Linked DNA regions of Homo sapiens. The protein of the gene in region 1 purifies or fractionates together with the protein of each later gene. This does not show direct contact. Each region holds a gene or a part of one and is shown on either strand. Other genes may lie near its edges.

Region 1 (3,829 bases):
TGCTCAATTCAACAAGTATTGATTAACTTACACGACAAAACATCTAACAAATAATCTCGGGTAAATAGAGCACTTTGAAAAAATTATTTGGAGCCGATTATCTGTTGCACAGATAAGTCCTCTGTGTCTGTCCCACCCACACCTTCCCCTCCCACCCCCCAACACCCCCTCCCGCCGCCCTCCCCTTCTCTCTCAAGTTTCTCAACTAGATTCATAAATCTTAGTGTTGCAAGACGAAGAACTCAAGACCTGCCTTCTAGGCATTTTACTTAATTACTTGGGGCGTGTAGTAGGAAGAAAAGTTACTAATAGAAAAGACTAGTACCTAGAATTAATAACCAACAAAAATCAGGAATGACTCTTTTTCTGCAGTTGATCCAAATTGTTTCTGGTAACATTGCCTGTATTTACAGAAAATACGTGGGTCTGGGAACACTGAACAAGTGCAGATTTCTTACTCCGGCTGGGTGGCCAAACTGGATGTGGTCCAATCTCTTAGAAAATCTGTCCTGTCCTTCACTGGGAAACAGACTGAAGGTTTAACGTTATTTTAGGATATGCAATGTATGTTTCTATTTATCCCTTGAAAATGAATAACCTCATATTGACCCATTATATTGACCTCCATTGATTTAGGAAATGGATATATTTTTTCTGCATTTAAAGGTATGCACTTAATGTAGCTTACTTAAGAGACCTTAAGTGCTTTAGCCAATACAATGTGCTAATTCCACTTTCTTTAGTATTTTAAATTAAAGTACTATAGTGAACTTTCCCAGTAACCTGATAGAACAACTTCAGGGATTTTTTTTTTTTAAGATGATAAATTCTGGGGAAATAAATCAAAGCTATTGAGACCAAACTAAATTCATTTTATGTAGGCATAAATTCCCAAACAATAGTATCATAAAAGCATTTTCCCCCAGAAAGTACCAAAGTACTGAAGGTGCTGTTTGACAGGCATTTTTTCCCTAAAGGATCCTCAGGAGATTTGTTATTCTATCAGCTTACTCTCTGGAGGCTGAGAGTCTTTTGAAGGGTGTTTCATAAGATTTCTGTTATATCCATTTGTGTTATAGACATGAATTGGGAGTGAAAAACTGTGCCGTTATTTCAGTGGAGGTGTAAACTCTTTTGAGCCCAAATGCCCTAAGTTTGGATTTTCAGCTGAACTTATGTTTCCATAAAGACAATGGGAAATAAGCGTAACCTAGAAATCTGAGTTGATATATTATCAAACCAAATTGATGCAAATATCAAATAACTATATTTTTATAGATTTTCATAGTCCCTTGCTTTTCCGTAGGCCCACATGTGAATATTCTGTACTTACTATGACTTCCAATTAAGCATACATTTTCTATTTAAGGCAAACTTTTAAAATTATGAAATATTACCGAAAATGGTGATTTTTATAATTAAGTCTATAATATTGTATTAAATCAATACTTGCCCCCACCTCCCAAAACTGATGCTACTGGAGAATTGCTAACGCTCTTATCTTTTGTAATTCGTTGTAACTACTTGGAAAAAGTAATACGCATGGGGAAACAAGTAGTAAAAACAAACACAGGCAAAAAAAAAAAAAATGACTTCTTCCCACCCAGACTCCCCTTGCACTGTCCTTCCCAGGAGTTGCTCACTGTTACAGTAGTTTCTAGTGAATTTAAGTGTATTGTAAGGTGTTTGATTTTACTGGAATAAATGCATACCATTCAATTTAAAATAAAACATTTAAGTGTATCCATCTGGTTGTAACTCTTTTATTCTAGGCATTACAAAGTGGTTTTTTTTCCCACTTAAAACACTTTCACTCAAGCCCTCTTGCTACATGGCTAGGAATGCATAGATGCTGCAATCCTGTGCTAGGATAACAGGTGTTACAAGGAGTGATGACAAGCAGGCAGGTTTAGGGAGATGGCCAAACATCCTTATGTACGAATGGATTAATCATTTGGAAACTTGCTTTTTTAATCAGTATAGACTGGGGGTGGGTAAAAGTGATTATATGAGTCAAGGTTAGTGTGCAACCCATGTTTTATATTCTTGACAAACCCAGCAGGTAGGGTCTCTGGAAATTATCTAGTTCTTACTTCAGTGGACAAAATGATGACGATTTCTCTGTTTAGGTGTGATTTCATTTTGGATTCAGCTTTGTATACTCACTGAGGTATGACTTTTTGTAATACTGTAATATTTCTGTTATGGTTATACAAACAGCATAATGTTTTTCTTTCTCTTTGTGATTGCTTGAATAGGATATCAAGCCAATGAGAGATCAAATTGTCAGAGTGAAGAGATATGAAAAAGTCCCACTAATCCTAGTAGGAAATAAAGTGGATCTGGAACCAGAAAGAGAGGTTATGTCTTCAGAAGGCAGAGCTCTGGCTCAAGAATGGGGCTGTCCTTTCATGGAGACATCGGCAAAAAGTAAATCAATGGTGGATGAACTTTTTGCTGAGATCGTCAGGCAAATGAACTATTCATCCCTGCCGGAGAAGCAAGATCAGTGTTGTACAACTTGTGTCGTCCAGTAAAGAAGATAACCTCAATCATGGCCATACCGAGCAGGTTAGTTTTTGATGGAACTGTATGAATCAGGTAGTGTTTTGTTTTTTGATCAAGTAAAACAAAAAGCTGGTTAGTGTTAATACATATGGCACTGCCTTAAATTTCTTTATTTTTAAAATAACATTTTCCATCACACAAAATAGTCAACATTCAATGAAGAAAATTTTTTTAAATGCAGATAAGCAAAGCGGAGATAAGAAATTGCTTATATTCCCATCACCAGGATTTTAAGTGAGTTATTGTTCTTCCTTCTCTGCTTTATTGGTAATATTTCTTTGGGTTGAGTTAAACCATAATACACTTTTTCCCTGTTCTTCTGATTTAGCATCCAGAATGCACAGGAGAGCACTGAGTAATAATTTCAGAAGTTTTGTGGTATTTTCTGTACTTTTATGTTTTTATGTCCTGAGCAAGCAAATTGCTGCAATTAAAATCACCAATTTACTAATCACCAAGTGCTTGATTAACAGTACAATTATTTAAGCAAATTCATCTGTACCTAACACTTGAGGGACTTAAGTGACCTCTGATAATAACAAATTATAGTGCCACAGTGTACCCTGACTTCATTATAAATATACGGTCCAAAAGATAATCTAGTTGAATTATCTGTGATGTGTTAGAAGGAACAGTTTCATGCATAAAAAAATTTATTCAATTTAATAAATTATGAGATTAATAGGAACAGTAACAAACCTTCAGGCCTTTCACTGAGTTAAATGATAACTTACAAGTTTTTTTTAATGAATGAGTTTTTTTTTAAAACTCATACTTTTTTAAAAGTAAGATTATGTAAAACTTACGAAGCATTTAAAACAAGATTATTTATGCCATGATCTTTTAGTCTAGATTGTAATTGAGCAAATAGTCTCACTTAGACAGTAACACTTAGATAATAAGATAAAACAACCAATATTGTGAATGACTGAGAAACCGCAGCAAATGCCAGACTAGCCTGACAGTATCAGGAATGAAATTGATCTTCCTGAGCCAAGGCTGACCTCGAGTCTAGGAGGCAGTGTTGCAAATGGCAACAGGCATTTCAGATTGGAGCAATGATTCCTAATCAAGGGTCTGGCTTTGTGTATGCTCCCCGGAGAAAAGACTAACGGTCCCTAATTTATCTTTTCAGACAAGGTCTCCTGTCAGATAGTGTCATCTTTGAAAATGAAGGATGACAACAATGCTTTATTTAAAATGCTTTCACTCATCAGCCTTTAGCATACCAGAATATGATGAAAACTCATTTATTTTCTTA
Region 2 (3,829 bases), about 23 Mb from region 1:
ACATTAGTATTTGCTGATTTTAGTCTGATTTTCCAAAATTGCAACTTAGAATAAATTTACTATTTAAAATAGAATATTTGGAGGTTTCTTATTACATTTATGTCTGTTTCTTTAAATATCTCAATCTAGTTAGGTATAAAAGTAAATATTTTCTTATTTAACGTATTACTTCTTGTAGGAAACTTTGAGGGAAATTTTGAGTCACTGGACCTTGCGGAATTTGCTAAGAAGCAGCCATGGTGGCGTAAGCTGTTCGGGCAGGAATCTGGACCTTCAGCAGAAAAGTATAGCGTGGCAACCCAGCTGTTCATTGGAGGTGTCACTGGATGGTAAGTGATGTGAAAGATGTCCACTGTCTTTTGTGCATGATTTAGTATTGCAGTTATAGGTACCATCATCTCCTTTAACCAGTGAAAACACATTGGCTTCTGTGAAATTGGTCACTTAATGTGGAGCATGTATCTAAACATCATCTTAAAGTACCATTTAATGGTTACACATAATGATTGTTTCCTATATGCCAGGTTCTGTTTGAAGTATTTACATAGATATCTCATTTCCTTCTCACAACTCTGGAATTAGTACTGTTATTTTCTATCCTCATTTTATAGAAACTGAGGCTCAGAAAGGTTAGTTTGCCCAAGGCCACATAGCTGGTAACTGGTAGAATAAGGAGCTAACTACTTATTAGCTATGTCAGATGATAACTTAATGTGACACAGCTTATGGTTTCATTTGTAATAAATTCAAAAAGTAATAGCAAATTTCATAGGTGAATATTGAATCCATTAATCTCATAGACTCTTTACATTTGAAAAATTTTATAGCACCATATAGCAAATATAGAACAGCACATTTAACAGGTGTACATTTTAGCAAATACTTGGAGTGAACACCTATGTAACAACTGCTAAGGTTAAAAAAAACGTGGCTAGCGCCCTAGAAACTCGAGAGGTTATTAAGCAGTTATTTCATTGCTTTTCTTTGTAGTTTTAACACCAGTTATGTCACTAAATAACATACTGTGGTTTACCTGCTTTCCACCTTAAAGTAAATGCAATCAGTATGTATTCTTTTGAGTCTTGCTTTTTTCGCTCAACCTGATGTTTCATATATTCAACTACATTGTGTATAGTTGTAGTTTCTTCACTTTCACTTGTATTTTGAGTTCCATTATGTGAATATACCACAGTATATCCAGTTGATGACTGATATTGGAGTTGTTTCCATTTTTGGCTAATACTATGCTTATATGAGTATTAGATTTCCCAGTGTATATGTGCATACATTTCTGTAGGGTCTGTACCTAGAAATTGCTAGGTAATGGGTATAGGTATCTTCAGCTTCACTAAATAATGTCAAACCACCTTCCAAAACTGTTTTTAACAGTTTACAGTCCCAGCAAGGACCAAATGAACCTGTTGTTCTACATGGTGGCACTTGATTTTGCCAGGCTATTAAATTTTTAAAAAATTAGTTAATTTTTCCTTAGCGAGGTAATCAAGTTAAATCCAGACTATAAAAATTTTACCAGTCTGGTAGTTAGGTAGTAGTATTTCATGGTGGCTTCATTTACATTTCCCTGAGTAGGAGTGACATTGATCGACTTTTACGTATGTTTGTTGACCATTTGGATCTCCTCTTTCAGTTCCACTCTAGTTTTTTTCCTCTGAAGTTGTCATTCTTTCCCTTGTTAAGCTGTAAGAGTTCTTTATATATTCTGAATATTCTCAGTCCTTTGTTAGTTGTGTGTATTATAGATATTTTCACTCATTCTGTGGTTATCTTTTCGTTTTATGGTATCTTTTGATGAACTGAAGATCTTATTTTTAATATAGTCAATTTTATCAATCTTAACCTTAATGGTTAGTGATTTTTGTGGCTTATTTAAGTAATCTTTGCCTACCCCATGTTTCAGAACTTTTATTATTTGACCTTTCACATTTAGATTTATTATCCACCTGGAATTGTTATTGTGCTCAGTATGTGGTAGATTCCTTCTTTTCTTCCCCATGTGGAATACCCATTTGTCCCAACTTAATTTATTGTGAAAGCTATCCCTTTCCCCGCTGCTTTATGTGAGTGTGTGTGCGCATGCATATGTGTGTGTCTGCTATCTTGTTCTTTAGGAACATCTTGGCTATTTTCTTTATCTCTTAGTTTTTAAATTTAATAAATAGGTATATTATAAGTTGCACATATTTAAAGTATAAAATTTGATACATTTTTACATATGTACATGCCCATAAAACCATCACCACAGTCAAGATAATGAACATACCTATCACTTCAAAAGCTGCTTTGTACCTCTTTGTAATTCCACGCTCTTTCCTTCATGCCATCCTCCCGCCACTGATCTGCTTTCTATTACTATAGATTATGTTTTCTAGATTCTTTTTAGAAGTGGAATTACATAGTATATATTCTTTTTTGTCTGGCTTCTCTTATTCACCATAATAATATATTTTTTTGTTTTGAGACGGAGTCTTGCTCTGTTGCCCAGACTGGAGTGCAGTGGCACGATCTTGGCTCACCGCCTCCTGGGTTCAAGCAGTTCTCCTGCATCAGCCTTCACCATAATAATTTTGAGATAATCTGTGCTTTTCTGTTTATCAACAGTTCATTCCTTTTTATTGCTAAGTAGTACTCCATTGTATGGATGTACCACAATCTGTTTCTCCATCCACCTTTGATGGACATTTGAGTTTTTTTTTCACTTTTTAGCTGTTACAGATAAAACTTCAAGTTTGTATACAAGTGTACAAGTCTTTGTATGAACATATGCTTTCATTTCTTTTGGGTAAATATCTAGGAATAGTATGGCTGAGTCACGTAGTAAGTGAATGTTCTAAATTTACAAGTACCTGCCAGTTTTTAAAGTGCCTGTACCATCTTACATCTCCACCAGCAATGTGTGAGGGTTCCAGTTCCTCTGCATCCTTACTAACACTTGGTATTATCTTTTTGATTACGAACATCTTAGTGGGTATGAAGTTGTATCTCATTGTGGTTTGAATTTGCGTTTCTCTAATGACTAATGATGTTGAGCATTTTCACGGGCTTATTTTTTGCCATTCATATATCTTTGATGACTTATTTGTTCAAATCTTTTTCCACATATTTTTATTGGGTTGTTGGTTTTCTTTCACTGCTGAATCGTGAGAGTTCTTTAAATATTCTGGATAGAAGTCTTAGATATGTGATTTGCAAATATATTACTTCTCTGTAGCTTTTCATTATCTGAACTGTACCTTTCAAAGAGCAGAAGTTCTTAATCTTGAAGTGCAGCTCTTTTGTAGCTCCAGCTTTTGGTGTCATGTCTGAGAATATTTGCCTAATCCAGGGTCACCAAGATTTTCTCTCGCTTTTTCTAGATTGTATATAGGTTCGGATTTTATATTTAGTTCTGTGATCCATTTTGATTTACTTTTTGTATATAGTATAAGGTAGGAATCCAAGTTTTTTTTGCGTATGGGTATCTAGTTGTCCCCACATTTGTAAAAAAAAGACTGTCTTTTTCTCCACTGAATTGTCTTTACACCTATGTTGAAAATCAGTTGACTATATGTTTTTGAGCTCTTTGTACTGCCAAATTGATCTAGGTGCCATTATCATGCTGTTTTGATTACTGTAACTTAGGTAATGCAAGTCTTGAAATTTTGTTTTTCATCAAAGCTATTTTGAGTATTCTAGGTATTTAGCATTTCCATCTGAATTTTATCTTGTTTTTATACACTCCTCCATATGAATTTTAGAATTAGGTTGCTGCCAGTTTCTGCCAGACACCCGATGAGATTTTGACTGGGATTGCATTGATCCATAAACATTG

Evidence for each region.
Region 2: the proteins of RAP2C (region 1) and FUNDC2 purify together in Homo sapiens (co-immunoprecipitation; one large-scale study listed by IntAct). This does not show direct contact.

What each region holds. Positions count from the first base shown.
Region 1 is NC_000023.11:132,212,876-132,216,704, reverse strand, and holds part of RAP2C (ras-related protein Rap-2c isoform 1 precursor), read left to right. Parts: intron 1-2,129; exon of another isoform or gene 2,130-2,170; intron 2,171-2,258; coding exon 2,259-2,537; 3' UTR 2,538-2,571; intron 2,572-2,749; exon of another isoform or gene 2,750-2,802; intron 2,803-3,829. UniProt on the Homo sapiens protein: Small GTP-binding protein which cycles between a GDP-bound inactive and a GTP-bound active form. May play a role in cytoskeletal rearrangements and regulate cell spreading through activation of the effector TNIK.
Region 2 is NC_000023.11:155,033,225-155,037,053, forward strand, and holds part of FUNDC2 (FUN14 domain-containing protein 2), read left to right. Parts: intron 1-178; coding exon 179-329; intron 330-3,829. UniProt on the Homo sapiens protein: Binds directly and specifically 1,2-Diacyl-sn-glycero-3-phospho-(1'-myo-inositol-3',4',5'-bisphosphate) (PIP3) leading to the recruitment of PIP3 to mitochondria and may play a role in the regulation of the platelet activation via AKT/GSK3B/cGMP signaling pathways.